Linked DNA regions of Homo sapiens. The protein of the gene in region 3 interacts with the protein of the main gene of each other region in a biochemical or structural test. Each region holds a gene or a part of one and is shown on either strand. Other genes may lie near its edges.

Region 1 (3,500 bases), on a different chromosome or scaffold from region 3:
GAAACGGGGTTCCACCATGTTGGTCAGGCTGGTCTCAAACTCCTGACCTCAGGTGATCCGCCTGCCTCAGCCTCCCAAAGTGCTAGGATTACAATTGTGAGTCACAGTGCCCAACCCCTACTTCCTTTTTGTTTCCTTATTCTTAAACACCTTATAAGGTTTTTACTGCTACCCATGAGAAACAAACTTCCTCTTGTTCGCTCTAGTCTATACCTGAATATTCACTCTTCTTTATATTTCTAAACCCAAAAAAAGGACACATAACCCGACAAAGGATTTTTTCAAATATTCTGAATTTATTTGCTAACACTTTGAGAATATTTAATCATATTTAGTTATAATGTTAGAGTGATCATTATATTGAAATTTTTAATGATATAAAAATAGAATTTCTTAGCCAGACGTGGTGGCACTCATCTGTAGTTCCAGCTACTCAGGAGGGTGAGGTGGGAAGATTGCTTGAGCCCAGGAGTACAAAGCCAACCTGGGAAACGTAGCAAGACCCTGTCTTTTTTTTTCTTTAAAGGAATTTCCTGGCCGGGCGTGGTGGGTCACGCCTATAATCCCAGCACTTTGGGGGGCCAAGGCAGGCGGATCACCTGAGGTCAGGAATTCGAGACCAACCTGGCTAACGTGGTGAAACCCCATTTCTACTAAAAATACAAAAAAGTAGCCAGGTGTTGTGCCATGTGCCTGTAATCCCATCTACTCAGGAGGTTGAGGCAGAAGAATAGCTTGAACTCAGGAGGTGGAGGTTGCAGTGAGCCAAGATCATGCCAAGACTGAAACTCCGTCTCAGATAGATAGATAGATAGATAGATAGATAGATAGATAGATAGATAGATAGATAGATAGATGATAGATATATAGATAGATAGATAGATAGATAGATAAAGAAATTTCCTGGGAAATCATTATAGGTAAAACAGTCATGGCCAGCTAACTTTTGCTACCATTATGGAATTGGGGTTTATGAAATATCATAAACCAGACCATTTCACTTTAGGGCAACTCAAAAGGATCACCTTCCACATGCAAGATAGGAAGTTGTTAAGTTCTACCTGGAGACACAGAAGAATATCAAATTCGATGACATTATTGACCATTAGGAAGAGGCTAGCCTCCTGCCCTTTAATATTACATCTTAATTAGATAAATTAACCAAGTGGAAATCTGGACTATATCCATAGCTCAAATTTGGTCCTCTCCACACACTTTCATAAAACATTTCTGGGGCCGGGCGCAGTGGCTCACGCCTGTAATCCCAGCACTGTCGGAGGCCGAGGCGGGTGGATCACCTGAGGTCAGGAGTTCGAGATCAGCCTGACCAATGTGGAGAAACCCCGTCTCTACTAAAAATACAAAAATTAGCTGGGCGTGGAGGTGCACACCTGTAATCCCAGCTACTCGAAAGGCTGAGGCAGGAGAATTGCTTGAACCTGGGAGGCAGAGGTTGCAGTGAGCCAAGATCGTGCCATTGCACTCCAGCCTGGGCAACAAGAGCAAAAAATTCCGTCTCAAAAAAAAAAAAAAAATTTTTGGCCAGGCACGGTGGCTCGCGCCTGTAATCCCAGCACTTTGAGAGGCCGAGGCAGGCTGATCACCTGAGGTCAGGAGTTCGAGACCAACCTGGCCAACATGATGAAACCTCGTCTCTACTAAAAATACACAAATTAGCTGGGCATGGTGGCATGCCCCTGTAATCCCAGCTACTCGGGAGGCTAAGGCAGAAGAATCGCTTGAATCCAGGAGCCGGAGGTTGCAGTGAGCCAAGATCACACCACTGCACTCCAGCCTGGGCAACACAGCGAGACTCCATCTCAAAAACAACAACAAAAAGAGGTAAATTTAAGGCCAAGATTGATGTGGAAGTGAAAAGGATTTTGGAGAGAGGGAAAAGGTAGAAGTTCACAAATGCCAATTTTGTATTTCTCGCCTTCTGGGATCTACACCAATTTAGAAATAGCCCCAAGACTAGGATAGGGTAAGGAAAAGATTGTATTAGCTTCATTACCCCCATAGATAGGGTACCCTAGAGTTCCTGAATTGGGAAAAATGCCTGGGATCTGTAACCAAAACTGGACCTCCTACTACAGTCCCTCAATTCTAGACCTTGGAAGTGCACTTAAGGAGGGTTAGGTCTGTAGGGTAGACACTTAGCCAGCCAGAGACATCACACCCTATCTTACACACCACTAAGTAAGGAGAAAGAGCCAAAGAGAAATGAGCTTTCAGGCCATCTCTTGAAGGCCGGTCCTACCTCTTGGCTGGCTATGCTTAATCTCCTAGAAGGAAGATCAGGAAAACAGTTGTTTTGCTGGAAGACAAATAGGACTTAGAATTATATCCCAGTTCCGTAGCCCAGTCTAACCAAATCAAATAAAGGAATAGAAGCAACAATCAGAGGTCCCCGCCCCTCTATTGTAATGTAATCAGTCTGGGTCAGCCATTTTAATTTTTATTCCTGTGTGGTATGAAATGGCTTGGGAACTTTGTTTTTCCCTTGAATGAGACATTTCTTATAAATAAATCAGGACTGATAGCTTTCCAGCTTATTTTTTAAACTTTTTATTTCTGTGTATTCTTTTGAAATTAAGCATTTTCTATTAAAAAAATAGAGCTTAACATGCAACACCTCATTTGAAAAAGAAGTAATTCTAATATATGCTATCTGTTTCACAGGTTGTAGGTCATAAAGAAGGTCTGGATGTTATGGAGAGAGCTGATCCTTTATTCCTTTTAATTGGACTTCCTACTATTCCTGTCATGCTGATATTAGGCAAGATGATTCGCTGGGAGGACTATGTGCTTAGACTGTGGCGCAAATACTCGAATAAACTACAAATTTTAAATAGTATATTTCCAGGTAAGGCACTGAACTGTGGTTGTAAAGTGCATACCAAATTGATCTTGAAGAACAATAACATGCTTTTTTAGCCATGTTTGAAGGTAGTCTAACTCTTCTGATTTATTAGCACTAACGCACTGCATTTTTTTCCTCTAGGGATAGGTTGTCCTGTTCCTCGAATTCCAGCTGAGGCCAATCCTTTAGCAGATCATGTCTCTGCTACTCGAATCTTGTGTGGAGCCCTTGTCTTTCCTACTATTGCTACAATAGTTGGTAAATTGATGTTCAGTAGTGTTAACTCTAATTTACAAAGGACAATCTTGGTAAGACGGCTTTAACATTACTTATATTACCTTGCAAAAGAGAATGAAGTGTATTTGTTTTTAAAAGGTGGGGAACTGTATAAATATTCGGTCTGTGGCTCCTATGCATTAAGCCTCTATTTGAGCCTCACTATCATTCAATAGCTTGAGTGGAAATAAAAAGAGGAGAAACCACTGCAGCAGTTCTGGCCTTTTGGAACTATGTTGTAGGTGCTTTCTCTCCTGGCATATGCATGAATCATCACACCTGTCCCTCTTGCCAGTGGGATTACAGTACTTTACGATCAGACCACCTGGTTCAAATCCCATCACAGAAATTGTCTTGCTGT
Region 2 (2,970 bases), on a different chromosome or scaffold from region 3:
AGAATCTATTGTATGCTTTTGGATCTCTCCGGAGGGTTAAGACAAAATTCTAATAAAGAATCGATAAGAGGTTATATTGATTTTTGTTGTCCTCAGTCTGTACTAAACTCAAACCAAGTTCTCATGCATTACTAGGTTGGAGAAACGTACGGTAAGGATATAACCTCCCGGGGCAAAGACAAGCCGATTGCCGTATGTAAAACTTTCAGTCCACTTCAGTTTCAAGCTTTCTCTGTTCTCTCATTTCACTTCGTTTTCCTAGGATTTTTTATTAAGCCTCAAGCTCCTTGAGTGTTTTATATTTAATTCACTCAAGGTTGGGGTTTTGCTTGATGAAATAAACTTCATTAGAGTGTGATAGTTTACCCACCGGCTTGAATTAAAGCAGTTTGTGAACTGTGATCTTCTCCTCCCAAGTGAAAGGAGGGGACAGTGAGAGGGCCCCTCTCCTGGCTGGTTGGAGATGCAGATATGGAGACTCCTCCCGGAAGCCCACCTGGCTGTGAGCCGAGCCGGAGCAGGACTAACCTTGTTGCCGGGGCCTTCTTTCTCCGCTTGGGTGTCCCGTGTGGTGGGGCTGTCTGGGCGTGGCTGTGCAGTGCTGCTGAGCTAACCCCACCGTGCTTGAGATGGTGTGCTGGGTGCCGCGGTGATTCTTGGACGAGCTTGTGCATGCGCCAGCATTCTTCAAATGCCAGTTATAAAAAGCTGTTGTGTGGGATGTTTCTTTCCCTTTCAGGTACAAGGTATCAGCTGGAGGGTTGAAAGTGTAGCTTGGGAATTGTGTGCATTTCATAAAGTAGCATAATTGCCTTTTTCCAGGAGAATATTTTAGAAATCTAGCATTTTAGAATTCTTGGGCATTTTTAAATACAGGTGAATATTTGAATTTGGTTTGACACAAAATACAGAATGGATGAAGCATGCAGATGTTTGGCGTGTGCCCCGAAGCACCCTCTACTCTGTCCTCTGCACCCACCCTTTGCGCCTCTGCGTCAGCCACAGCTGCCCCGGGAGCGAGTTCTCCTGAGGCCCTGGCTGTGCTGACTCTAGGGCAGCGTGAGGGTGGTTGTCAGCTGTGAAGGTGCCACTTACACACTAAGTCCTCCTTCCTTGTGGAGGGAAGGGCTCAAGTAGCAAATATTGGAGCCCCCGCTTGGTGCTGGGAGCTGTGACAGGCAGCTCCTGAAGAAGCAGTTTAATTGGAACCAGTGACCATCTAAAACTGTTTGTACTCTAAACCAGATTTTACAGAAATATTGGAATCATACCTTTATACTTGATTTTTTCATTTTAGATAGTTAGGCGTAAAGGAAGCCTCCTGAGGGTCTGGTCTGATCCTCCTGATCCTTGAAGAGCTTCCAGCATCATTCTCCCTTCATGCTCCCCATTTTCATAAGTAACTGGTGGCTTGACATGCTGGGTTTGGTTTGGGAGCCCTCTGACAAACTGAAAGGGTGGATCAGGAAGCGTCTGACCACACCACTGGTAGACACGCTCTGCGTCCAACAAGTCCTTCCCAGCAACATGTAGAAAGCAAAGTGCATGCTTCATTCTAAGGTTGTTGTCTAAATGTTTCCCTGTGTTTCCTTTTTGTAGGATGTGTTCTTAATTTGCTTTTCCCTTGTGAGTCCTGCATCATTTGAAAATGTCCGTGCAAAGGTAGGTGGGGATTTAAAATGTGTATGTAAGTTATAGAATGATCCTCTCAGAAATAAATACTTTAAAATATCACTTAGCCTAGGAATTTTTAGTTATTTAAATTGGTTTTAGCAATTTGCTACTTAAGTACATGATTGGGTTTTTTTTTTTCTTTTGAGACGGAGGTCTCACTCTGTTGTGTCCAGGCTGGAGTTGTAGTGGTGACATCAGAGCTCACTGTAGCCTTGAACTCCTGGGCTCAAACAGTTCTCCTGCCCCAGCCTCCTGAGTTGCTGGGACCATAAATGTGCACCACCATGCGTGGCTAATCTTAAAAGAATTTTTGTATGGCTGGTTTTGTAGACCCTGGCTTGTCTCAAACTCCTGGGTTGAAGTGATCTTTCAGCTTCAGCCTCCCAAAGTGGTGGGATTATAGCTGTGAGCCACTGCATCTGGCCCATCAGCAGTTTATTTTATTTATTTATTTTTGAGAGAGTCTTTTTTTTTGTTTTTGTTTTTGTTTTTGAGATGGAGTTTCACTCTTGTTGCCCAGGCTGGAGTGCAGTGACGCAATCTTGGCTCACTGCAACTTCCGCCTCCTGGGTTCAAGTGATTCTCATGCCTCAGCCTCCCGAGTAACTGGGATTACAGGCATGCACCACCACGCCCGGCTAATTTTGTATTTTTAGTAGAAATGTGGTTTCTCCACGTCAGTCAGGCTGGTCTCGAACTCCCGACCTCAGGTGATCCGCGCGTCTCGGCCTCCCAAAGTGCTGGGATTACAGGCGTGGGCCACCGTGCCCGGCTGAGACAGAATCTTGCACTGTCATCCAAGCTGGAGTGCAGTGGCACAATCTTGGGTCACTGCAACCTCCCCCTCCCGGTTCAAGCAATTCTCCTGCCTCAGCCTCCTTAGTAGCTGGGATTACAGGTGCCCGCCAACACACCTGGCTAATTTTTGTACTTTTAGTAGAGACGGGGTTTCACCATGTTTGCCAGGCTGGTCTCGAACCCCTGGCCTCAAGTGATCCACCCGCCGCAGACTCCCAGAGTGCTGGGATTTCAGGTGTGAGCCACTATGCCCGGCCTAATACGTGGATTTTTAAAGCTTCAGGTTCTGGTTCAGAAGTTTCCTGGGTCTCATTAAAATAATGAGGCACTCAGAATTGGTCTAATAAAAATAACGACCATTTCTTTCTACTCCAGTCTCTTTCACAAACTTCTTAGTGAAAATGACAAGTGAGGCCCTTCAGTAGGGGCATTTTCAGTGGAGATAATAGCGGCAGACCTGAGACCTTGGGCTAGGTAGTTTATTCTCATTTCTGAACA
Region 3 (3,370 bases):
CCCAGGTTCAAGCGATTCTCCTGCCTCAGCCTACTAAGTAGCTGGGACTATAGGTGCGCACCACCACGCCTAGCTAATTTTTGTATTTTTTCAGTAGAGACAGGGTTTTGCTATGCTGGCCAGGCTGGTCTCAAACTCCTGACCTCAGATGATCCAGCCACCTCAGCTTCCCAAAGTGCTGGGGTTCCAGGTGTTAGCCACCATGCCTGGCCATAGACTTGTTTCTGTTCCCTTCTCACTGTGGCTGTACCAAGGTGTTGCTTATCCCAGAAGTCGTGATGCAGGTCAGCACTTTCTCCATGGGAAGTTTTAGCAGTGTTTCTTTTTAGAATGTATTTGGGAACTTTAATTCATAATTTAGCTTTTTTTTCTTCTTCTTATAAATAGGCTGTACCAGTGCAGGTCCTCACTTTAATCCTCTATCCAGAAAACACGGTGGGCCAAAGGATGAAGAGAGGTAACAAGATGCTTAACTCTTGTAATAATGGCGATAGCTTTCTGGAGTTCATATGGTATACTACTTGTAAATATGTGCTAAGATAATTCCGTGTTTCCCCCACCTTTGCTTTTGAACTTGCTGACTCATCTAAACCCCTGCTCCCAAATGCTGGAATGCTTTTACTTCCTGGGCTTAAAGGAATTGACAAATGGGGACACTTAAAACGATTTGGTTTTGTAGCATTTATTGAATATAGAACTAATACAAGTGCCAAAGGGGAACTAATACAGGAAATGTCATGAACAGTACTGTCAACCACTAGCAAAATCAATCATCATTGTGAAACATAGGAAGCTTCTGTAGATAAAAAAAAAAATTGATACTGAAAACTAGTCGAGACTCCATTTATATGTGTATGTTTTCTGAAAGCCTTTCAGAAAAATATTAAATTTAAGGACAAGATTTTTATATCAGAGGCCTTGGGACATAGCTTTGTTAGCTATGCCAGTAATTAACAGGCATAACTCAGTAACTGAGAGTTTACCCTTTGGTACTTCTGAAATCAGGTGCAGCCCCATCTTTCTTCCCAGAGCATTAGTGTGTAGACGTGAAGCCTTGTTTGAAGAGCTGTATTTAGAATGCCTAGCTACTTGTTTGCAAATTTGTGTCTACTCAGTCAAGTTTTAATTTAGCTCATGAACTACCTTGATGTTTAGTGGCATCAGCCCTAATCCATCTGATGCTTTTTCATTATTAGGCATGTTGGAGACTTGGGCAATGTGACTGCTGACAAAGATGGTGTGGCCGATGTGTCTATTGAAGATTCTGTGATCTCACTCTCAGGAGACCATTGCATCATTGGCCGCACACTGGTGGTAAGTTTTCATAAAAGGATATGCATAAAACTTCTTCTAACATACAGTCATGTATCTTTTCACTTTGATTGTTAGTCGCGGTTTCTAAAGATCCAGATAAACTGTACTTGCAGTTCAAATTAGGAAAAGCAATTTTATTGGACAATTACGGTGAAAATGAATTATTTTATCTAGGTCAGTTAAGAACACTGTTCTGCTAAGATGCAGTAAAAAGCAGGTTACATTTGACCATATTAGATCTGAGTTTGGAAAACAGAAGTAGTCTTTAGTTTTAAAATGGCCAGATTTTCTTGCCAGGATTGGGTTTCTCACTTGTTAAACAGAACATTTTGTTAAGTTTAAAACCTGGGATGGACTTAAGTATTCATGTTCATTCATGTTCATTCAGGACTGCAGGTTATCATGACTTGTTTAACTTGTGGGAAGCTGTTGTCCCAAGTTATCCTGGGGAACTGCATCTGGTTCTTGCAAAACACCAAGTAGACAGGCTCTCTTTTACCTCCCCTTGAGGGCATTAACATTCAGTAGTCACTTCCATTCAGTTAACCCTTTATTTTTATGGTTTTTCTTGAGCCATAGTTGTAAAGCAGAAAAATCATTTATAAAGGTTTGTTGAACAAAATTCAAAATACTGTTGCTTAAAGTATTAAGATTTTTTAGGATTATACCTTACTTATAGGCCCGTCATTCATTTGGCATGAAATTTTGAGTTTTATTCACTTTCACTTTCCTTTTTTTCCAAAGCAATTAAAAAAACTGCCAAAGTAAGAGTGACTGCGGAACTAAGGTTACTGTAACTTACCATGGAGGATTAAGGGTAGCGTGTGGTGGTCTACAACATAGTTATTTGGGTTTTAGTATTTCATTTAGACAGCAACACTTACCTAATGTTTAAAGGTAATGTCTTTGCAACACCAAGAAAAAGCTTTGAGTAGTAGTTTCTACTTTTAAACTACTAAATATTAGTATATCTCTCTACTAGGATTAATGTTATTTTTCTAATATTATGAGGTTCTTAAACATCTTTTGGGTATTGTTGGGAGGAGGTAGTGATTACTTGACAGCCCAAAGTTATCTTCTTAAAATTTTTTACAGGTCCATGAAAAAGCAGATGACTTGGGCAAAGGTGGAAATGAAGAAAGTACAAAGACAGGAAACGCTGGAAGTCGTTTGGCTTGTGGTGTAATTGGGATCGCCCAATAAACATTCCCTTGGATGTAGTCTGAGGCCCCTTAACTCATCTGTTATCCTGCTAGCTGTAGAAATGTATCCTGATAAACATTAAACACTGTAATCTTAAAAGTGTAATTGTGTGACTTTTTCAGAGTTGCTTTAAAGTACCTGTAGTGAGAAACTGATTTATGATCACTTGGAAGATTTGTATAGTTTTATAAAACTCAGTTAAAATGTCTGTTTCAATGACCTGTATTTTGCCAGACTTAAATCACAGATGGGTATTAAACTTGTCAGAATTTCTTTGTCATTCAAGCCTGTGAATAAAAACCCTGTATGGCACTTATTATGAGGCTATTAAAAGAATCCAAATTCAAACTAAATTAGCTCTGATACTTATTTATATAAACAGCTTCAGTGGAACAGATTTAGTAATACTAACAGTGATAGCATTTTATTTTGAAAGTGTTTTGAGACCATCAAAATGCATACTTTAAAACAGCAGGTCTTTTAGCTAAAACTAACACAACTCTGCTTAGACAAATAGGCTGTCCTTTGAAAGCTTTAGGGAAATGTTCCTGCTTAGTCATTTTAGCATTTTGATTCATAAAGTACCTCCTCATTTTAAAAAGACATTATGATGTAAGAGAGCCATTTGATAACTTTTTAGTGAGCTTTGAAAGGCAAGTTACAGCCTCAGCTAGCTAGTAAGATTATCTACCTGCCAGAATGGCACAAATTCTACATTCAAGGGTAGACGCTGGCACAACCTACTTACAGATTAGCCCTTTAAAGCAATCTGTAGCATTAGAAGATGGAACCAAGGAAATGTTTGACTGTGGGTTCTGGCTGTTGAGAAATAATTTACACACCGAATTAGTGA
Region 4 (3,500 bases), on a different chromosome or scaffold from region 3:
TACTTCAGCTTAAAAGCTATTTATCAAAATATTCATCTTACTACTTACGGAGAATAGCTAAATTTTTCTTTACTTAGGAATTTTTTTTCTCCAACTAGGAGTAATTATGAATTTTCTTTTTTTAAGCCATGCCAGTTCTCTGTTAGTAGATAGAAGATGTCTAACATTGAAACAACTCATTTACTTAACCGTACCTGCACAGCTAAAGACTAAGGGATAATATTTCCTTGCTGAACATACCTGTATTTCAGATGGTGGTAGGCTTCAACCAAACAGGCAGTGAAATCACTTTGGGTGTTTAAAACTTGTGTACTTCATTTGTTTCTCAAAAGTTATCATATGTCAGTGATACTTTCTATATCAAAGTGGAAAAAGTAACACTTCTTGATAAAGGAGGTTTTGCTTGCATTGCTCTCTTTATCACTGTCATTAACACCTGAAGAATTATTTTTATTGATAACTTTTTTAAAAAGCTATGCCATTAGCCTTAAAACCATTATGTAGTCTTATCCTATTGATGTTATCTAGTATTTTATTTTATAAATCATTTACTAAAGAATTACTGTTAATTTGTTTTAGAAGTCCTATTAGGAAAGGTTTTGTTACATGAAACTCTCAATATGACAGAAGTGTTCAGTTGTTTTAACTCTGAAATAAGTTTGTGCATTGAATTCTGAAGCAAAAATCCTGCTCAGAAATCACCTTAGCTTGTTTACGCCCAAAAGAAACTTCGAAACTGAGTCTTTGGTTCAAAAAACTGGAGTTGGCCCCATGAAATTATGTATACTTAGCATTTTTAACTTCTGTCCTGTTGGGGAGACCCCTGAGGATAAAAATAGTCCTTATGATTTGAATAGCAGGCAGGTTGCCAATTGAAGAGACTTTGGTAGAAGTGAGCCATAAGGAGGGAGCCAGAGTTGTTAGAGGGAAGGAGCAAGAAACCAGGAGAAGCTTTTGGGAATGTGATGATGTTAGGTTTCCAGATAAATATTATATAACGTATTAATATAAATATTGTATCACAAAAATAAGCTCATTATCATGAATCTGTTGATTTATATTTTGTGATTTCTAAGTCACGTATTGGTATTTGCCCCTGAAAATGGTAAGGTATCCTAAATTAAGTTATTCTAATGCATAATCACAAATGAGACTATGTGAAATGTGCAGAAGTATAGGAGCTAATGCAAGCTCTGTGATGGCAGGGACCATTTTCTTTGTTCACTCTTTAAGTCTTAGCACTTAGCATAAGCCTGACAATAAAAGATGTCGAATAAGTATTTGCTAATAGAATTAAAGTATCTACAATCTAAGGTATTTATTTTATAACTATCTCTTCAGCAGTGTTGTCCAATAGAAATACAATGTGAGCCACAAATATAATTTAAAATTTTCTAGTGCCACATTAAAGAAGTAAAAGGAAACAGGCAAAATTAGTTTTCATAATGCATTTAAGCCAATAGATCTGAAAGATTATCATGAGTGACTTTACGTACTTTTATTCATATTGGACAGCGTAGCTCTAGGGGCGTTTTGTATGACATGTTTCTTTCTGCAGAACTTGTCTTTTTGTAGTCTTTTTCTAACTGATTGATGTGTCTTTTGAGGCCAAATACAGAATTGCATACACCTTCGAATTGGAGTTATTGAGTTGGATTGAAAGTCAGGCTACCTGTCTTCTCTCAGTTTTACATCTCCGCACAAAATGACTTTGCGCGTTACTGTCTTTCCCAATGTATAATCCTGTAATCCCAGCAGTATGGGGAGCTGAGGCAGGCAGATCATTTGAGGTCGGGCAAGACTAGCCTGACCAACATGGTGAAACCCTGCCTCTACTAAAAAATACAAAAATTTGCTGGGCTTGGTGGCAGGCACCTGTCATGCCAGCTACTAGGGAGGCTGAGGCAGGAGAATTGCTTGAACTTGGGAGGTAGAGGTTGCAGTGAGCTGAGATTGTGCCACTGTACTCCAGCCTGAGCAACAGAGCAAGACACCATCTCTAAAATAAAATAAGGAAGGATATTCATCATCTTTTTCATTGGATTAGTATAAGTTAATTATGCCTTTGAAACACTCTGGGCTACTCAGACAAGACTGTTATAAAAGAGATCCTCTAATTATTAGTAACTAGTCAGAGCAAGGCTCAGTGTAAAAAACAGGATAGAAGTTCCCATGAGACTGGTGCATATAGAATGTACTGTTACCTCCCACATTGGAATCAGTAACAATAAATCAATACAAGATGCTCTTAAATAGAATCAGGAGAGGCGACTAGGTTGGTTTGAGCACCAGATTTTAAACCTCTCATCTATTTAATATTGCCTGAACAAATCTGTTTTTCAGTTTTTGTATGGAATAAATGGGACTTTTTATATAGGCATCCTTAAATAAAATCATGAAATAAGGTCATTTGGAAAGTGGAGGTGGGAACTGGTAAGTAATGTGAGTGCGTAAGTGGGGGTGGGAACTGGTAAGTAGTGTGAGTGCGTAAGTGGGGAAAATAAAGTAACCATTTAGAAAAGCCTGTTATCTTAGGGTATATGATGTATATAGTACAATGACTGTAATTCTTTTATCCAAAGCAAGGGTGGCAGTGGTTACCTGGTAGGCAGTTGTGACTTCTGGTTGTATACATAGCCATATCAAATAGATTTCTCCTTATAGCCATACCCTTTAATATAAAACCAACTTTTGTCAGGCATGGTGACTCATGCTTGTAATTCCAGCACTTTGGGAGGCCAAGGTGGGCAAATCACCTGAGGTTAGGAGTTCGAGACCAGCCTGGCCAACATGGTGAAACCCTGTCTCTACTAAAAATACAAAAAAAAATTTACCTAGGTATGGTGGTGGGCACCTGCAGTTCCAGCTACTTGGGAGGCTGAGGCAGGAGAATTGCTCCAACCTGAGAGGTGGAGGTTATAGTGAGCCGAGATTGCGACATTGCACTCCAGGCAGGGTGACAAGCAAATCTGTGTCTCAAAAATAAAAATAAATAAATAAATAAAAACTTTTTTTTGGAGACAGAGTTTCACTCTGTCACCCAGGCTGGAGTGCAGTGACGCAATCTTGGCTTACTGCACCCTCCGCCTCCCAGGCTGAAACGATTCTCATTCCTCAGCCTGCCAGTAGCTGGGATTACAGGCACCTGCCACCACACCCAGCTAATCATTTTTTTTTTTTTTTTTTTTTTTTACAAGCGGCGAGGTTTTGCCATGTTGGCCAGGCTGATTTCGAACTCCTGGACTCAAGTGATCCGCCCACGTCAGCCTTCCAAAGTGCTGGGATTACAGGCGTGAGCCACTGCACCTGGCCCATTTTTAAAATTATGCACAAACGTTAAATATCCTTTAGATTTTTGCATAATTTAGCATACCTTACTGATGTCCTTAGCAAAAATTTCCAGAACCATATTTTAGTGTGTTGCATGGTAACCCCACAAAAGATATGTTCATGTCCTAATCCCCAGAATCTGCAAATGTTATTTGGAAAAAGGGGTTTTG
Region 5 (4,216 bases), on a different chromosome or scaffold from region 3:
GGCCCTGGGGATGCAAAAGGAATAAAACTCCCAAGGTAACATTTTTTTCCTTTGGTAACAGCTTATTGAGATACAATTCGCATATTGAGATAGAACTATTTAAAGTGTACAATGATTTTTCAATTCAGAGTTGGGCAATCATCACCTCAATTTTACATTTTCATTACTTTGAAAACAAACCTATCCCAGCCAGTGACTCACGCCTGTAATCCCTGCACTTTGTGAAGGCAAGGTGGGAGGATCACTTGAGCTCAGGAGCCACAGACTGGTCTGGACAACATAGCAAGACGCTGTCTCTACCAAAAATTAAAAATTAGCCAGGTGTGGTGGCATACGCCTGTAATCCCAGCTACTGGAGAGACTGAAGCAGGAAGATTTCTTGAGTCCAGGAGATGGAGGATGCAGTGAGCATGCCACTGTACTCTAGCCTGGGCCACAGACCCTGTCTCTTAAAAGAAACCTGCACCCTTTATCACCCCCTACTCCCCTCTTCCTCCCATCCCTAAGCAATCATTAATCAACTTTCTGTGTCTGTATATGTACTTGCCTATTGTGGACATTTCATATCAATGGAATCACACAACACGTGGACCTTTGTGGCTGTCTTCTTTGACTTAGCACGTGTTTAAGGTTCGTTCCTATTGTAGCATGTATCAGTAGTTCATTTTTATGGCCGAATAGTACATTTTATGGATGTATCACATTTATCCACTCATCGCTTGACGGACATTAGCGTTGTTCCCATCTTTTGATTGTTAGAATGTAATCAACATTTGTGTACAAGTTTTGTGTGGAGGTATGTTTCCACTTTTCTTAGAGGAGTGGAATTACTGGGTCAAATGGTCACTCTTGTTTGACTTTAAGGAAAGGACAGGTTATTTTCCAAGACAGCTGCACCATTTGACATTCTCACTTCTGGGGTATGAGGGAACACATTTTTATTTCCCGCTAAATCAGGTTCATTTTTTAGTTTCTGCTGGAGGCTACTAGCAAACAGCAGAAACTTGAAAGACTGTTAATATTCTTTCTTCTGGGGTTTCGGGCACCAGGGAAGCTGCGCGGCCCCTAGGAGTGCTGGGGGTAACCTCTTCAGAGGGTTAATGGGGTGGGGGGGGGGCAAGTGGCCGACGGCCTGGTGGCCAGGGTGCCCCGCGCCCTGAGGCCCTGCCCGCCTGCCAGCGCCTGCGAGCCCGAGTGACCCCTGCGCCGCGGCCGGAGCAGGTGCCCTCTGTGTCTGCGGGCCCAGCCAAGCCGTGGTGCGGACGGCGGATGATGCTGGGTGCCCGCCCCCCGGCCTGAGGCCCGGGGCTACGCCCGCTAGGCGGCGGCGCGACCGCTGGGGGCGGGGGACGAAGGCCGCGCCCCTGCGCCCGTCCCGCCAGCGTCCCGCTGGGGGCGGCGGCCTGTCCCGAGCCCGCCCAGGCTCTTCCGCGCCGGCAGGGGCAGCAGCGGGAGCAGCGCGGGGCGGAGCGGCGCCAGCAGCCAGGAGCGGCCCGGCCCGGCCCGGCGCGGCGGCGGCGGCGGCAGCGGCAGCGGCAGCGACGCCAGAGCCCGTGGGCGCCGTTCGCGAGGCCGCCGCAGAGGCCCGGCCGCAGCGCAGGGAAGCCTGGGGGCCAGAGGTCGCCGCTGCCGCCATGCCGCTGCTCTTCCTCGAGCGCTTCCCCTGGCCCAGCCTCCGCACCTACACGGGCCTCAGCGGCCTGGCCCTGCTGGGCACCATCATCAGCGCCTACCGCGCGCTCAGCCAGCCCGAGGCCGGCCCCGGCGAGCCGGACCAGCTAACGGCCTCGCTGCAGCCTGAGCCGCCGGCGCCCGCCCGGCCGAGCGCCGGGGGACCCCGGGCCCGCGATGTGGCCCAGTACCTGCTCTCAGACAGCCTCTTCGTGTGGGTGAGCGAGGCGGCCGGGCCCGCGGGGCAGGGGCGGGGTCCGCTGCGTCACCCTTTATCCGCGGGGGCGTGGTGGGCCTAGGGGCCCCTCCGCCAGGGACCCCCGAGGGCGAGCGCCTGGGGGGCGCGGCCTTGCTCGCGGGAGCGCTGCTGAGGGAGAGTGGTGAGGCGCGGGGAGGGGGAGGGGGCCGCGGGCGGGAGGAACATCGCGTGGGGTTGCGAGGAGGAGGCCCCGAGGGGCAGGCCAGCGTTGAGGGCTCCGGGAAGGGGGTCGGGGAGGCGGCGGGTGATGGTCTGCGCTGGGGCGCGGACGGGGCCTGGGGCAGGGGAAGGGGTTAAGGGGCAGTGGGGAGGAACGGGCTGGGTTTTCTGAGGGACCCTCGGGAGAAACTAGAAGATCTCAGAGGGCAGGTTCAAGGGGAGGTCGGGATCTGGGAGTGCGTTATCCCGAGGGTTGGACGAAGTAGAGTGAAGTTGAAAGCTTTTCCCACTTGGTCAGGCATGGGATTGTTAGCGGATTTTCTTCCGACGAAGAGGAGAGGGCAGAGGGGAGAATTCAGACGTTGAGTATGGGGGAATTTTCGGCACTCAGGTGTCTTTGGACATTCCGGTTGGAGAGAGGCCGTCTCCCACAACTTTTTTGCCGCTTAGTATTCGATTGTCCCCTTTGGGAGCTGTGTAATGAAACAAACACCAAACTGTGCTTCCTTTTCTGCTGCCTTTACCTGATGTTCATGACAGTTTTCCTTTGATGTCTGAACGCAGCAAAACATTCACAGTGTCAAGAGGCAGCCCATCATTTTAACTGAATGTTTCTTATTTGAGGATCTATTCTAACACAGTTTCCAGGTTGTCTGCCCCTGCGAGATAAGCAGCATTGATAAGGCACACATGCTGGTTTCGTTCATTAGAACAGATAATTTCAGACTGATCAGATCAACGGTATTTTGGCTAGAGAATTTTGCTTTCATCTTGGCCTTGAATACTTATGTAAATCCCGCAGTGATCAGAAAAGTTTCTCCAGGATTTAAAGCCTCACTTGGATTTAATATGGCTTCTTGGATCTTGTCTCCTTGCATGTTCCCATTTGGGGTTGAAAGTGGGCTGTAAATGACTGAGAGATTAATATTCCAAGTTGATAGTATGATATGCAACTCATTTGTTATAATTAGTCCCACTGTGCTTCATCAGGAAGCGGTGGGATTTATGGACTCTGTGGGCTGTAGATTAAGTCTCCTGGTCCTTCTGATGGAGAGTTTAGTAGAAGGCAGTGAAGGGTGAAGTTCCTGTTTATCTACTGCTGTGTAAAGCTGAACTTTACAGTCCTAAAGAAGGGAGAAGCGAAAGAACTCAACTCACATCTCTTGCTTAATTTCAAATCTGTTTTTGCATTTGAGTTAGCAGGTAAACAAAGTGATATGGAGAGTGTTTTTGCCATGTTAAGATTATAATGTAGTCTTTGATATTTTTTAAGTCTAAGATATAAATAAGCCTTTGAGAAGGAACCCTTATTTTATTTATATAACAACACTGGTATTGTTTAATGGATTTCCCCCCGCAGGACTTTATTTTGATAAAAGCCATGTTCAGATTCTAAAGTTAATATCTCTTCAGAAAACATTACATAAAAGCTGTTGATTTTTCTGTGATGATGATTACTTTTTAGGAAATTTCCTTTTCTTCCAGCATTTTCAGTAGAGGTCTTACCTCTGGCAGGTTTATCACTTCTTACTCTCCGCTGATGATATTTTCATTTCTCAGTTGATCCTAGTGCTGTTTTTCTTCCATCTTTCCTCTGGGGTCTCCACGTGTTTACTTTGGCCTGCTTTGGTTTCTCAGACCCTCCATGTGCTCACTGTTTGTCTCATCACTCAGTGTATATGTAGTTTCTGCTTTAGCAGCTGAGTAGAAGTGACAATCTCAAAAGCCTTCCCCAGTGGTGGGACAGATTAAGATTGTTGAGTGAATACCCTATGTGGTGGTGCCTTTGTCAACTGGATCCTCCTTGCGCCCTCCCCTAGTTCTATTGAATTCAGATTCAACTTTTTCACGAACACTGCCTGCCAAGGCCAAGCAAGACAAAACAAAGACTGATCCTTCTGCCAGTGCAAGTCCTGCTAGATATTAACATATTGTAATTCCCAAAACTTATCTTTTTAGAGCACAGTTTAGAATAATATCGGTCTGATAGCATCACAGGAGGTTTTTCATGAACAAACACAATTTAAAACCTTTCGAAGGTGTTATTTTGGGCACTTTGGAGGGCATATCTGTGAACAACACTTTCCCCTACCCTCAGTAATATGGCAAAATTTTATAGGGGATAAT
Region 6 (2,885 bases), on a different chromosome or scaffold from region 3:
ATGATAAGCTTAGCAAGAGCAGCGACAATGAGCTTGCATTGTCAGATAACCCCCAAAGAATACAGCATAGATAAAGAAGTAAACGTATAATAAAGAAAAAAAGTTGGGCTGGGTGCTGTGGCTTATGCCTGTAATCCCAGCACTTTAGGAGGCTGAGGCAGGAGGATCACTTGAGCCCAGGCATTTGAGAGCAGCCTGGGCAACAGAGCAAGACCCCATCTCTACAAAAAACTAGCCAGGCGTGGTGGCACATGCCTGCAGTCCCAGCTACTGGACAAGCTGAGGTGGGAGGATTGCTTGAGCCCAGGAGGGAAGCTGAGGTGGGAGGATTGCTTGAGCCCAGGAGGTCAAGGCTGCAGTGAGCCAAGATTCCATCACTGCTCTCCAGCCTGGGCAACATGACACCCTGCCTCAGAAAAGTAAAAATAAAAAAATCTCATCATAAACCTAAAATAAGTTTTGGAATATAAAGGGCTTTTAGTTATCTGAAAAATGCACTTAATGTGGTAACATGTTCTCAGACAATGCTGGATAAAAGTATTTTTTAATATATGATTATTTGGATAGCTTTGTATATTGTCAGTTGTACAAATACAATTCATCTAATATATAGTATTAGTGTATGTTAGGTAGTAGTAGATAAAAGTAATATACTTTTAAGAAATGAATAGGCAAAATACTTTCTAGCCTCAACAGGAAAAAAAATGTATTAATAGTAGTGAACATGAAATGTGATTATTAGGTCAAAATGTGTAAATAATTTGACAGACTATGAATTTTTGAAGCAAATTTCAAACTTATTTAAATGAAATATAATGCTATTAAAAGTATATTTGCAAAGGCACCCTCATGATTAAAAATAAACTTTTCATAAATCACTTCTTGGGGTGCCGTCAGTTCCTGATTGAAAGGTGGTGTGGGTGCATTTGGTTAACCGGGACGCGCTTTGTGCTTTGTTTTCTAGGCTATAGAAAGCGCAATTGGTGGTAACGCTTATCAACACAGCAAAGTGAACCAGTGGACCACAAATGTAGTAGAACAAACTTTAAGCCAACTCACCAAGCTGGGAAAACCATTTAAATACATCGGTAATGGAGTCTTGTTTCTTTTATATTTGCGGGATGGTTTTTTAACACTGATCAGAGGGGCATCCAGTACCAGAAACAACAGCTAACGTGGCTCAACTCAAGGAAGGCTCCTGGTGGGAGTCGGTCGTGTGTGTAGTATACGTTAGCGTACGCTTGACCATTTGGCTGCTGGTACAATTGCAGATCGTATGTGAAGCGGGATCTTACAGGAGGTCCCATCAGATGCTTTTAGAACAAGTGAAGCATAGAGGAAGTGTGGACAGCCCCCAGCTGACAGTGGCTCAACTTAGAATTTTTCAACTTTGATGGATTTACCAGGGTATTAAGTGCATTTGCAACTTACATTTTCATATATTGTTGATTTATGATGGGTTTATGGGATGTTGTAAGTCAAGGAGCACCTATAATTTGTCAATATAGTGAGACAAGGCAATCTGTCCCTATAATTTTTATCGAGAACATCAACCACGTGGAGCTACATACATTGTACGTTTGCTAAAAGTGGACAGAATGACATTTGTGTTACCCAGTAGACTTCTCTAACAAAAATTTGTTTTAACTTAAGTGACCTGTGTAATTATGCAGAAGAATGGAGCTGGATTACACACAGCAAGTTCCTGCTTCTGGGACAGCTCTACTGACGGTATGATTTTCATTCATGTTTGTGAAGTTTTGTTGTGTGAAATATATGACTGGAAGTTTCCTATCTTTGAATGCAATGCATGTTTATCACCTTTTAAAACATTTAATAATAGACTTGCCAAGGTTCTTTGTGTAGCATAGAGATGGGTACTTGAATGTTGGCCTTATTGTGAGTAAAACGTCGTCCCCCAGCTTTCCCTGCCGTAAATGCTGCTCTCTTCCCTCCCGCAGGGAGCTGCACTGTGCGATGGGAGAATAAGACCATGTACTGCATCGTCAGTGCCTTCGGACTGTCTATTTGACCTGCAGTCCAGCCTATGGCCTTTCTCCTTTTGTCTCTAGTTCATCCTCTAACCACCAGCCATGAATTCAGTGAACTCTTTTCTCATTCTCTTTGTTTTGTGGCACTTTCACAATGTAGAGGAAAAAACCAAATGACCGCACTGTGATGTGAATGGCACCGAAGTCAGATGAGTATCCCTGTAGGTCACCTGCAGCCTGCGTTGCCACTTGTCTTAACTCTGAATATTTCATTTCAAAGGTGCTAAAATCTGAAATCTGCTAGTGTGAAACTTGCTCTACTCTCTGAAATGATTCAAATACACTAATTTTCCATACTTTATACTTTTGTTAGAATAAATTATTCAAATCTAAAGTCTGTTGTGTTCTTCATAGTCTGCATAGTATCATAAACGATTTCTTCATAGTGAGTGGCTACAGAATCTATACAACCAGACCAGGCGCAGTGGCTCACACCTGTAATCCCACCACTTTGGGAGGCTGAGGCAGGCGGATCATGAGGTCAGGAGATCAAGACCATCCTGTCTAACACGGTGAAACCCCGTCTCTACTAAAAATACCAAAAATTAGCCAGGTGTGGTGGCGGGCGCCTGTAGTCCCAGCTACTCGGGAGGCTGAGGCAGGAGAGTGGCATGAACCCAGGAGGCAGAGGTTGTAGTGAGCCAAGATCGTGAGCCAAGTTCCCGCCACTGCACTCCAGCCTGGGTGACAAGAGCAAGAGTCCGCCTCAAAAAAAAAAAAAAAAAAAAAAAAAAAAAATATATATATATATATATACAACCAAAAAAAAAAAAGTTCTGCTGTGGTCCTCTCCATGATGTACTCATTTTACCCGTGGGACCAGGATCCTGACGG
Region 7 (3,500 bases), on a different chromosome or scaffold from region 3:
CCTGTTTGTGATAAAAATACATTTCTGAAAAGTATACTTTACGTCAGATTTGGGTTTCTATTGACTAAAATGTGTTCATCGGGAATGGGAATAACCCAGAACATAACAAGCAAAAAATTATGACAAATATATAGTATACCTTTAAGAAACATGTTTATATTGATATAATTTTTTGATTAAATATTATACACACTAAGGGTACAAAGCACATTTTCCTTTTATGATTTGATACAGTAGTTTATGTGTCAGTCAGTACTTCCACATTTTTGCTGAACTGGATACAGTAGGCAGCTTACCAAATATTCTATGGTAGAAAACTTGGGACTTCCTGGTTTGCTTAAATCAAATATATTGTACTCTCTTAAAACGGTTGGCATTTATAAATAGATGGATACATGGTTTAAATGTGTCTGTTTACATACCTAGTTGAGAGAACCTAAAGAATTTTCTGCGTCTCCAGCATTTATATTCAGTTCTGTTTAATACATTATCGAAATTGACATTTATAAGTATGACAGTTTTGTGTATATGGCCTTTTCATAGCTTAATATTGGCTGTAACAGAGAATTGTGAAATTGTAAGAAGTAGTTTTCTTTGTAGGTGTAAAATTGAATTTTTAAGAATATTCTTGACAGTTTTATGTATATGGCCTTTTCATAGCTTAATATTGGCTATAACAGAGAATTGTGAAATTGTTAAGAAGTAGGTGTAAAATTGAATTTTTAAGAATATTCTTGAATGTTTTTTTCTTGGAAAAATTAAAAAGCTATGCAGCCCAATAACTTGTGTTTTGTTTGCATAGCATATTATAAGAAGTTCTTGTGATTAATGTTTTCTACAGGAATTTGTCAATCTTTATTCTGACTACATTCTCAATAAATCAGTAGAAAAACAGTTCAAGGCTTTTCGGAGAGGTTTTCATATGGTGACCAATGAATCTCCCTTAAAGTACTTATTCAGACCAGAAGAAATTGAATTGCTTATATGTGGAAGCCGGGTAAGAAAGCAGGTGTCTGCAAAAAGTCATGTATCGATTTATTGTTTGTAATGATACAGTAGTATAGCAGATAACTAAGACATATTTTCTTGAATTTGCAGAATCTAGATTTCCAAGCACTAGAAGAAACTACAGAATATGACGGTGGCTATACCAGGGACTCTGTTCTGATTAGGTGAGGTACTTAGTTCTTCAGAGGAAGATTTGATTCACCAAAGGGGTGTGTGATTTTGCTTCAGACCTTTATCTCTAGGTACTAATTCCCAAATAAGCAAACTCACAAATTGTCATCTATATACTTAGATTTGTATTTGTAATATAATCACCATTTTTCAGAGCTAATCTTGTGATTTATTTCATGAATGAAGTGTTGTTATATATAAGTCTCATGTAATCTCCTGCATTTGGCGTATGGATTATCTAGTATTCCTCACTGGTTAGAGTATGCTTACTGCTGGTTAGAAGATAATTAAAATAAGGCTACCATGTCTGCAATTTTTCCTTTCTTTTGAACTCTGCATTTGTGAACTGTTACATGGCTTCCCAGGATCAAGCACTTTTTGAGTGAAATGGTAGTCTTTTATTTAATTCTTAAGATAATATGTCCAGATACATACTAGTATTTCCATTTTACACCCTAAAAAACTAAGCCCTGAATTCTCACAGAAAGATGTAGAGGTTCCCAGTTCTATCTGCTTTTAAGCAAATGCCCTTACTACTCTACTGTCTACTTCTGTGTACTACATCATCCAATTCTGAAAGACATAGGCTTCCCCATCCCCTGCTAAGACTGGTTCAAGTGGCAGCTACTGATGGATTGCAGTGAGAAGGCATGCAAACACGTACCTTCCTGGAAGTTGTCTCCAAAGGCTATTGCTCTAAGACTCAAGTATATAAACACTAGAATGAATATCAACTCTATCTAGCAATAAATGTTATTTTTATATTACAGTTGACCCTTGAACAACACAGCTGTGAACTTCATGGGCCCTCTGACATGCAGATTTTTTTTCTCAACTAAGAGCAGATTCAGTATTGGTGGGACTCAGAACCTGCATATACAGAGGGCTGACTTTCATACATGCCAGTTTCACAGGGCCAACTGCAGAACTTGAGCGTGCATGGATTTTGGTATACACACGTGGTCCTGGAACCAATCCCTGTCACATATACCAAGGGATGGCTGTATGTTACTTTATATTCATTTGTTCTGTTATTTTATAAGGTTGTTCGTCGTGGTATGTGGGAATTCACCAGTATTTCTTCTTTCTGGTGCACCGTTGGTCATTTCTGGCAGCAGTGGTGAATGTATTTACTCTTAGCAACCTCTGTGCTGCTACCTGTTCTGAGTTTCAAAGGTGATTCATTAAAGGGTTGGGATAACATGGTGATAGGAAAAACCCCCCTCATCAGTCACAAGGAGTATAACAGCAATATCTCTGTAATATGATTGATCATAGATATAATTTCTAGTAGGAAAAAAAGTCATATCTTGATGCATCTCTGAGAATAGTTGAACATATCTTGTGCTATTCTTTATAGAGAAATTATCTTTGAAATTAAAGTCTTAATTTTACTTCTAGCTTTTTATAACAACATAATCCCTACTTGGTATGTATCTTAAGATCATTTTTAAATGTATGATTTGAAGGGCAAACTAGTGTTATGTGAAAAATGACAGATAAAGTAGCTTCCAACTCATCCTCAAGAGTTGATGATATTCTAAACCTTTTCTAACTAAATTCAGCTTCTTAATTTTCTCAATATAAATATGATGAAAATATTAATTCATTAAATAGTCTACAAGTATTCGGTAGTTGAAGACTTAAAGTAGTGCTTGTAATAACAGAAGAGAAAAAAGACATTACAGGCGTATCTCACTTTATTGCACTTTGCAGATACTGAGTTTTTTTGGTGGCAACCCTGCATCAAGCAGGTCTACCAGCACCATTTTTCCAACAAAATGTGCTCACTTCATTAGCATTTTTAGCAATGATTTTAAATTAAGATAATGTACTTATTTTTAGACAATGCTGTTACACACTTGACTACAGTATAATGTAAACGTAACTTTTATAAGCACTGGGAAACAAAAAAATTTGTGTGACTCACTTTACTGCCATAATCACTTTATTTGCCATGGTCTGAAACTGAACCGGCAGTATCTCTGGGGTATGCCTGTATAGATATTTTGGTTGGTATTTATTTATTGTATGCAGAATTCATAAAAATAAAAACTGCGAGGCTGTTTAATACATTTCAACTAAAAGTTGCCAGCATCATTAATATGTAAACCACTAGAAATAAGATTTTGTTAATTTTTTGTTTGTTTGTTTAAACAGTCTTGCTCTGTCACTGAGGCTGGAGTGCAGTGGCGCAGTCTCAGTTCACTGCAACCTCCGCTTCCTGGGTTCAAGTGATTCTCCTGCCTCAGCCTCCTGAGTAGCTGGGGTTACAGGTGCACACCACTACACCTGGCTAATGTTTGTATTTTTAGTAGAGA

Evidence for each region.
Region 1: of the proteins of SOD1 (region 3) and MARCHF5, one has a biochemical effect on the other in vitro, tested with the Homo sapiens proteins (one study listed by BioGRID).
Region 2: the proteins of SOD1 (region 3) and RAC1 form a complex in vitro, tested with the Homo sapiens proteins (one study listed by IntAct).
Region 4: of the proteins of SOD1 (region 3) and RNF19A, one has a biochemical effect on the other in vitro, tested with the Homo sapiens proteins (one study listed by BioGRID).
Region 5: of the proteins of SOD1 (region 3) and AMFR, one has a biochemical effect on the other in vitro, tested with the Homo sapiens proteins (one study listed by BioGRID).
Region 6: the proteins of SOD1 (region 3) and DYNLT1 form a complex in vitro, tested with the Homo sapiens proteins (one study listed by BioGRID).
Region 7: the proteins of SOD1 (region 3) and UBE3A form a complex in vitro, tested with the Homo sapiens proteins (one study listed by BioGRID).

Annotation. Positions count from the first base shown.
Region 1 is NC_000010.11:92,346,667-92,350,166, forward strand, and holds part of MARCHF5 (E3 ubiquitin-protein ligase MARCHF5), read left to right. Parts: intron 1-2,682; coding exon 2,683-2,866; intron 2,867-3,004; coding exon 3,005-3,171; intron 3,172-3,500. UniProt on the Homo sapiens protein: Mitochondrial E3 ubiquitin-protein ligase that plays a crucial role in the control of mitochondrial morphology by acting as a positive regulator of mitochondrial fission and as an important regulator of immune response.
Region 2 is NC_000007.14:6,398,527-6,401,496, forward strand, and holds part of RAC1 (ras-related C3 botulinum toxin substrate 1), read left to right. Parts: intron 1-135; coding exon of another isoform or gene 136-192; intron 193-1,599; coding exon 1,600-1,662; intron 1,663-2,970. UniProt on the Homo sapiens protein: Plasma membrane-associated small GTPase which cycles between active GTP-bound and inactive GDP-bound states.
Region 3 is NC_000021.9:31,666,062-31,669,431, forward strand, and holds the end of SOD1 (superoxide dismutase [Cu-Zn]), read left to right. Parts: intron 1-387; coding exon 388-457; intron 458-1,196; coding exon 1,197-1,314; intron 1,315-2,409; coding exon 2,410-2,517; 3' UTR 2,518-2,870; downstream 2,871-3,370. UniProt on the Homo sapiens protein: Destroys radicals which are normally produced within the cells and which are toxic to biological systems.
Region 4 is NC_000008.11:100,303,454-100,306,953, reverse strand, and holds part of RNF19A (E3 ubiquitin-protein ligase RNF19A), read left to right. Parts: intron 1-3,500. UniProt on the Homo sapiens protein: E3 ubiquitin-protein ligase which accepts ubiquitin from E2 ubiquitin-conjugating enzymes UBE2L3 and UBE2L6 in the form of a thioester and then directly transfers the ubiquitin to targeted substrates, such as SNCAIP or CASR.
Region 5 is NC_000016.10:56,422,746-56,426,961, reverse strand, and holds the start of AMFR (E3 ubiquitin-protein ligase AMFR), read left to right. Parts: upstream 1-1,416; 5' UTR 1,417-1,634; coding exon 1,635-1,889; intron 1,890-1,972; exon of another isoform or gene 1,973-2,051; intron 2,052-2,227; exon of another isoform or gene 2,228-3,292; intron 3,293-4,216. UniProt on the Homo sapiens protein: E3 ubiquitin-protein ligase that mediates the polyubiquitination of lysine and cysteine residues on target proteins, such as CD3D, CYP3A4, CFTR, INSIG1, SOAT2/ACAT2 and APOB for proteasomal degradation.
Region 6 is NC_000006.12:158,635,974-158,638,858, reverse strand, and holds the end of DYNLT1 (dynein light chain Tctex-type 1), read left to right. Parts: intron 1-964; coding exon 965-1,088; intron 1,089-1,653; coding exon 1,654-1,731; intron 1,732-1,961; coding exon 1,962-2,032; 3' UTR 2,033-2,385; downstream 2,386-2,885. UniProt on the Homo sapiens protein: Acts as one of several non-catalytic accessory components of the cytoplasmic dynein 1 complex that are thought to be involved in linking dynein to cargos and to adapter proteins that regulate dynein function.
Region 7 is NC_000015.10:25,352,025-25,355,524, reverse strand, and holds part of UBE3A (ubiquitin-protein ligase E3A), read left to right. Parts: intron 1-841; coding exon 842-997; intron 998-1,098; coding exon 1,099-1,172; intron 1,173-3,500. UniProt on the Homo sapiens protein: E3 ubiquitin-protein ligase which accepts ubiquitin from an E2 ubiquitin-conjugating enzyme in the form of a thioester and transfers it to its substrates.